Linked DNA regions of Homo sapiens. The protein of the gene in region 1 interacts with the protein of each later gene in a pairwise test. Each region holds a gene or a part of one and is shown on either strand. Other genes may lie near its edges.

Region 1 (3,819 bases):
TCTCTGGTTCCAACCTGGGGGGATGGAGGAAAGAGAAAGAGGGAGGCCTGCATTCCCGAGTCCCACGTCTGCCACCTCTTGGCTGAGAGACCTTAGGCAGATGATTATCCCCCTCTGGGGCTTGATTTCCTGTCCTATAAAAGGAAGTAACACTCCCCTCCTCACCCAGGGTGATGAAAATTTAACAGATATGGGCCGGGTGTGGTGGCTCATGCCTGTAATCCCAGCACTTTGGGAGGCCGAGGCGGGCAGATCATGAGGTCAGGAGATTGAGACCATCCTGGCCAACATGGTGAAATCCCGTCTCTACTAAAAAATAAAAATAAATTAAAAAAATTAGCTGGGCGTGGTGGTGCGTGCATAGAGTCCCAGCTACTCGGGAGGCTGAGGCAGAGGAATCTCTTGAACCCAGGAGGCGGAGATTGCAGTGAGCCGAGATCGCGCCACTGCACTCCAGCCTGGCAACAGAGAGAGACTCTGTCTCAAAAAAAAAAAAAAAAAAAAAAAAAAAAAAGAAAGAAAAAGAAAATTTAACAGATATGAATGTGTCACAGAGTCAAGATAGCTAAATACTTAAGAACCTGGGCTCTGGAGCCAGACATGGAGTCCTACCCTGGCTTCACTGCTTACCAGCTGTGTGACCTTGGCCAAGTTACTCAACGTCTCTGTGCCTAAGTTCATCATCAAAGGAGAATTCTAGTAATACCTACTTGATAGGGCTGTTGTGAGGATTTAATGGCTTAATGCGCTTTGGACAGCATATGGAACAAGGCAGACTACCAACATCTACAATGCACCGTTGGGGGCTAACATGTGATCATGCCCCCGCACCAGGCCTAAGAGCAGTGGGAATTAGTTCTGCACCAAAGGAATGACCCTCTGATGTGGGTCCAGTGACTGTGGCAGAATTTCCAGTGCCTGTGGCAGAATAATGGGACATGCCAGGCCTTTCAAAACCTAGCACATGGACAGTACCTATTTTGCCCAAAGTTAGGGCTGTCTCCAGAAAGAACAGAACCAGAAGAAGTTCTAAAAACCAACTGGCTATGAGGCCCACAGGCAAATCTGGCCCAACCTATTAGGTGAGACAGGTCACACCACTTGATGAATGACATAGTGAGGATGTGAAAGGGAAGCCATGTGCCCAAGGGTATGCAGCTTCTCTGTGGGGGGCCTGGGTCAGTTCACAATCCCCACTGCTCTTCCCTGGTGCCTCGTTTCCTGGGCCAATGGTGAGGGCAGGTGTGGAGCAGACCCCAGTCTTGTCTTGCTCTCTGCTTTGGATGTCTTGAAATCTGTGATTTTTCCCTGAGGTTTAATAATCATTTTGCCTACATGTAATTTGGGATTGTCTTGGAGTGCATGGAAATAATTATATACACAGAAGGAAAGAGAGGGGGAGAGAGAGAGTGGAGAGAGAAATTGAACCATAAAATTACAGAATCAGACAACCCCCAAGCCAGAAGGGACTGCAGGCACTGTTGAGTCCACCTGTCTCAATGTGTTTGCCGAGGGGGGCAATGAGGCTCAGAGACTGGGAGGAGCTGAGCTGGGACCAGAGGGTGAGTCTTGACTCCTGGGCATTGCACCTTAAGACCAAGAATGACTTGCTCTGAAGAGACCAAGAGGGAGCCCTAGAGAGCAAGGGCAGGACTGAGGGCTGTGGCAGAACCTGCAAACCTCGTGCCAGAGGTGTCCCCAACCTCTGTCCTGGTCACAGCCTTAGCGCCCCTCGCTGAAAAACTGCACCCATCTAGTCTTTCCACCGATAGCAACTTCCTCCCAGCTCTTGCTTCATGCTGCACCTAGGGAACTTTCTTATCAGCCAACAGGTCCACGTTGCCCCTGTGCTTCCAGCCCTTCCATACTCCCCAAACTCCTAAGCCTCCCAAACATAACTCCCTACCCACCCCCTTTCCTCTCCAGCAAGCAGCCTCCACCCTGCCAGGCCTGCCTCCTCACCACCCCTACACACTCACACTCCATCGAGCTCACTTCTGCCTCTGGGCCTCACCTGACACGCCCTCCCTCCTTTCCTACTCACTCCGTCTTCACTTCGAGAAGGAAGCCTTCCCTGATCCCCAGCTGAGGTCAGGTTCCCTATGAAAGGCTCTCAAAGCACCCTGCACCTCTCCTGAAAATGTTACACAATATTTAACACTGCTACAATTTTGCACCTATATGTTATAACGTGGTTGATGTCTGTCTCCCCACTACACAGTAAACCCCATGAGGAGCAGGACTAGGTCTCTTGCTCACCGCTACATCCCCAGCTCGGCACAGGGATCGGCACATTCTGCAAACACAGCTGTTGGATGAGTGATGAGTTGAGACAGATGGCTTAATAAAAACTACTCGGGAGGCTGAGGCAGGAGAATGGTGTGAACCCAGGAGGCAGAGCTTGCAGTGAGCCGAGATCACACCACTGCACTCCAGCCTGGGCGACAGAGCGAGACTCCGTCTCAAAAAACAAAACAAAACAAAACAAAACAAAAAAACTGCTGGGGGCTTCTTTTCTGAGGAAGAGTTCCATAGACCTGGACAATCCTATATTGCCAGACGCCAACCCTCTCTCCAGCCCTGGCTGAGCCCCCTCTCCAGTGGAAGCTTTGCTGTGTTCCTTAAGGCCTTAGAGCTAGGACTGAGGACCTGTAGTCCCAGAACCAGCATCCTGTACCCCCGGACCCCCCACCACACCCCCCACCCTGCCCCACCTCACCTCCCCTGACAAGCTGCCACCTCCTTCCCTCTCTCCCAGCTCCCCAAGGCAGCTGGTTACATAACTGGGGATTCTGCATTATTTATGACCACTGATTATTTTTTAATTCTGTGATTACGTTATTATCTTCTTGGGGGGCTGTGGAGTTGGAGGGGCAGCGAGCTGATCGTGATTCATGGCTCTCATCCTGCAATTTGGCCTAATTGGCCAGGGAGCTTTGGTAAATCTGTCCGGAGGAGGAGAAGGCAAAGGGAAAAGGGAGGAAAGGAAGGCGTGAACAAAAATAATAAGAAAAAAATCCACGCAATTCTTGCTGAGCTGCAGGTGATGGAGCTGACCCACTTTGGCGCAGCTCCGTGGTCCCCAGCCTCTCCTGCTCCAGCTGCTTCCTGGCTGGGCCCCATTTATCTCACACTTGCATGGCCTATGGCTTTCCCTGCCACCTTCAGACAAAGCCCCTTGCCGATGGGACTGCACAATGGAATGGCCAGGAAACAGAATGCCAGGATGACTGCTTCCTAGGCAAATCCGGTGGGGGATCCTCCACTGCCACCCAAGGCTGGGGAAACGTTGTGCCAACCCCTCCATCTTCCTGAGGTGTTTGGGCCAAAGTGAGCAACTGTGCCCTTAAGTTATATCCCACCCAAGAGTCACCGATGATGTGGGAGACACTGGTGTTAATGCAAGGATCACTATTGAGCCCCCATGTTGAGTGACGCCTGGGGGAGGGGGAAACCAAGGATGAGGAGGCCAAGTACCTGCTCAAGGTAAGCTCAATACCTGGGGGCCAAGGACAGGGGCCCTTAACCCTGCCTTTGGGAGCTTCTGGTGGGTGGGTAACAGGGGAGCAGTGGGGAGGCAGATTCCCACCCAGAAACATGACCAGCAGATTCCTGGAGAGTGTGTGGGATTCTCACTGAGAACGAATCCAAATTCCGTGCATGCTGTGCATGGCTCGACGGAATCTGACTCCCTGCTCCCTCTTTGACCTTTCCTCTACTCTTCTCCTTGTTCACTGCCCTCCAGCTGCTCTGGCTTCCTTAGCTGAACCTGCATATGCCAAGCACACTTCCTCTTCGAGACCTTGGCACCGGCTGCAC
Region 2 (3,819 bases), on another chromosome or scaffold:
CCATTCTCCTGCCTCAGCCTCCCGAGTAGCTGGGACTACAGGCACCCGCCACCACGGTGGGCTAATTTTTTGTATTTTTAGTAGAGATGGGGTTTCACTGTGTTAGCCAGGATGGTCTCGATCTCCTGCCCTCGTGATCCACCCGCCTCAGCCTCCCAATGTGCTGGGATTACAGGCGTGAGCCACCGCGCCCGGCCTGAGGATTGTTAACTAAAAAGTTTGAGACCCAGATCTGATCCTTATTTTCTGTTGGACATCCCTTGAAGAGTTGAGCTGCTTTACAGAGATGGCTTATATCCACTAAAGGCCTGCACTACAGCTAAATTATAATAGGTCATTGGAATGCTTGGCACGCAAGGCCCTTTATGTGCTAATTCAAACCTGAATCCTTTTGCTTCTTTACATATTATCTGTATTCCTATTTGCCATTCTCTGAACTTGCAACATACTGTTATTTCTAGTACCTGGAATTCCTCCTGACTTCCATCTTTATCCACCTTTCAAAGATGCTACCTATTGTTTAAAGCTCAATCCGTGAAGCCTACAGATGAAAATATTCCTTCCTTGGAACTTAATATCTTCCTGTTAGTCTTTGCACTGAATTAGTTTTTTATACATTTTTTCTCACCAAAGGCCAGGCCTGCATCTTGCTCATTTCTGTGTTCCTTATAGCACTGGCAAGAGTTTGAACTTTGTAGTTGTTCAGTAAGCATTTGTTGATTAAATGTAAAACTCCAGAGAAAATAGGTGGTACTTAGTATTAACAATTAACATATATTTTTACTTGTATATGGGAATTGATAGGGAGCATCCTCGAATGGGAAAACATCATTTTGGAACTGGACAGGGGTGGGTGGGAAGAGTAGTTGAATGCTGTCTCCTTGCACGTCTGACCATGCACGGTTTCAGAATTCTTGCTGCCTTAACTACTATTACTACCATTTTACAAGTGTCTTAGTTTTCATTTTACCCTACACACTGTATAATGCTATTGGTGAATGCAAATGAGGTGTAAATTCAGATGAGTGAATGTCTTCGTGTGATAGTAGATAGTTTCCAAAGGAGTGATTTTTTTTTCCCATTACAGGCATGTAATGAATTTACTACACATGTGATGAACCTTCTCCGAGAACAGAGTAGAACACGTCCCATTTCTCCAAAAGAGATTGAAAGAATGGTGGGCATCATCCATCGAAAATTTAGTTCCATTCAGATGCAGCTCAAACAAAGCACTTGTGAAGCAGTTATGATTTTAAGATCAAGGTTCCTTGATGCCAGGTATGTGAAGCCATAAATCTATTGCATGGCTTTCCCCCGTCTGTCACTCCTTGTGTATTATTTTCTGTAAAACTGACCAGTTGGTCTTAGATTCTTTTGGCCATATGAGTCTTTTGTACAATGGACAGGTAATTCAACTCATGGTTCCTGTGCTGTCAAGCTTTCCTGTCTGGGAATGGTAATGTGGGTTAGCTGCCAGTTTAGTGACTCAGGAAATGAATAGGATTAGTGTCTCTGCTAATGACTTTAGGAATATGTAGCCTTTCCATTCTGATGCTAAAAGGTATTTTTAAGGATAGTTTTCTGCATATAACTGTTTTAACAAGGGGTATTTTGTAAGAATTTCTTAATGTTACACGGGTTGTGCATAATATGGGAAAATACTTGGAGATACTGATACTCCTAAGAAGGAAGTGGCATTTCAGTTAATAGCAGTTACCACAAAACTCCAGAATCTGTATTTCCAAATCAAGAAAGAAAGCCTACCATTTTTCCTGTAAGGATGAAAATTTCCCTTTATCTGAAGCTTTCCCCAAGTTTCACAGGAGTTAGGTAATATATTGTATATGGTAATAAATTGTCTACAGTGACCTACTGAGTGACAGAACAGAAGAATTGTCAACGTCATAGTGTACGCTGCCCCTGTAGGGATGCCTCTCGGGGCATTGCTAAAGCTTATGATGAATCTGCAGCTTTGGAAAGAAGTTTCTATTTTGTTTTTCTTTCTTCTCCCATGGAATCTGACAGAGGTGATAATTATCATCCAAATCTCACAGTATTAAAGGAAATAACTAAGATAGCTTCTCAACTGGAAAACAAAGTGTGTGGAGCATTTTCAGTGTTTTTCATTTTAGCTCTTTATTTTCATCTCAGTTCCTGCCCATCCTTTTGTACATGGGCTAGCACAGTACCTACTAGTCTCCCTGTCTCCAGTCCTACTGCCCTCCAGCCCATCCTCCATATCCCTTGTCTGTTTCTATAACATCACCGTGCTACCATGATTGCTTTGCTTGAAAACCACAGTAGCTTTCCAATGCTCGATACATGCATACTTCACATATACACTCCTTAACCTGACATTTAAGGCCTGTTCCTGTCTGCATTACTTCTTTGTTGTTGTGAAGATTTTATTATTCTTTTTTCTATTTTAAAAATGCCAAGCTCACTATGGAAAGTTTGGAAAATATATGGAATAAAAGGATGAAGGATAAAAGTTAACCTCATTTTTATTACCTAAAGAAAAAATCACTATAAATGTTTTACAATATTCTCTCTCTTTTTGTTTGTTTGGGGGCTTTTTAAAAGAAATATTTCTGTGATGGGTCAATATGCATAATTTGGTCTGCTTTTTAAAAAATTTACCATGAATACATGAACATTTTCATGTAGTATAAGCTCTAATTATTAATAGCATTTTAACAATTGAAGTTACCAAATGGATATAAAATAAATAATGTCCTTAGCATTCCCTTATGCATTCCCTATGCACTCCACCCAGGCTGGAGTGCAGTAAATGATGCTATCATGGCTCACTGCAGCCTCGACATCCCATGCTCGAGTGATCTTCCTGCTTCTGCCTCCCGAGTAGCTGGGAGGCATTTGCCACCATGCTCGGATAATTTTTGTATTTTTTGTAGAGATGGTGTTTCACCATGTTGCCCAGCCTGGTCTTGAACTCCTGAACTCAAGCTATCCTGCCTCCCAAAGTGCTGGGATTATAGGCAGGAGCCACCATGCCCAGCCAACTATTAATTTTCATATAATTTCTTCCTTTCTTCCTTCCTTCCACAAATATTTATTGGTACTGAGGATATATTGGTAAACAAGACAGATTAATATACTTGCCCCAATTGAGCTTATATTCTACTTGAGGAAACAGACAGTAAACAGGTGAACAAATATACCATAACATTCTATTTAATAATGTAATTAAATGTAATAGGGTGATAAGTGGTATGCAGAAAAATAAAGCAAGTCAAGGGGAGAGAAAATGGAGAGGGTACTATTTTAGATAGATTTTTATTTAAACTAACATTTTAATGAAAATCTTCATTGATTGAACCTTTTTGGTCTTTAGGATTATTTCCTAAGGATCAATTCTTAGAAATGGAATTATTAGATCTGAGTTTGAACATTTTCAGTGTTCTTATTTATATATCACTAAATTGTTCTTTCCTGTGTTTCTTCCAAAATGAAATGCTTCATGGAATTATGTTTCTACTGCTTAGAATTCCTTCTTTTCCTAAGTCTAACCACTTACTTCCCTGGCTCCCACAACAAACTGTCTCTCTAAGCTGGTTACCAGTAATGAGTCATCATCTGTGAGGGTATCTGGAATGGAGCCCGGAATGGAACCAGTGCTTGTACTTGTTGGATCTAGTGAGATCTTGCTCATCGTTCCGGATCTGGTCTAAATGCTCGCTTTTCAGAAAATCCACCTTAATCACCCTGCTGGACTAGCCCTTCCTTCCCTTGAACACTTATACTATGTTTACGCAACTATTCAGACTGAAAGTCATGTAGGCTCCTTTTTCTTGTAGT

What was found.
Region 2: the proteins of INSYN1 (region 1) and PBX3 interact in a two-hybrid assay, tested with the Homo sapiens proteins (one large-scale study listed by BioGRID).

What each region holds. Positions count from the first base shown.
Region 1 is NC_000015.10:73,743,345-73,747,163, forward strand, and holds part of INSYN1 (inhibitory synaptic factor 1), read right to left. Parts: intron 1-3,819. UniProt on the Homo sapiens protein: Component of the protein machinery at the inhibitory synapses, probably acting as a scaffold. Inhibitory synapses dampen neuronal activity through postsynaptic hyperpolarization.
Region 2 is NC_000009.12:125,928,568-125,932,386, forward strand, and holds part of PBX3 (pre-B-cell leukemia transcription factor 3), read left to right. Parts: intron 1-1,087; coding exon 1,088-1,278; intron 1,279-3,819. UniProt on the Homo sapiens protein: Transcriptional activator that binds the sequence 5'-ATCAATCAA-3'.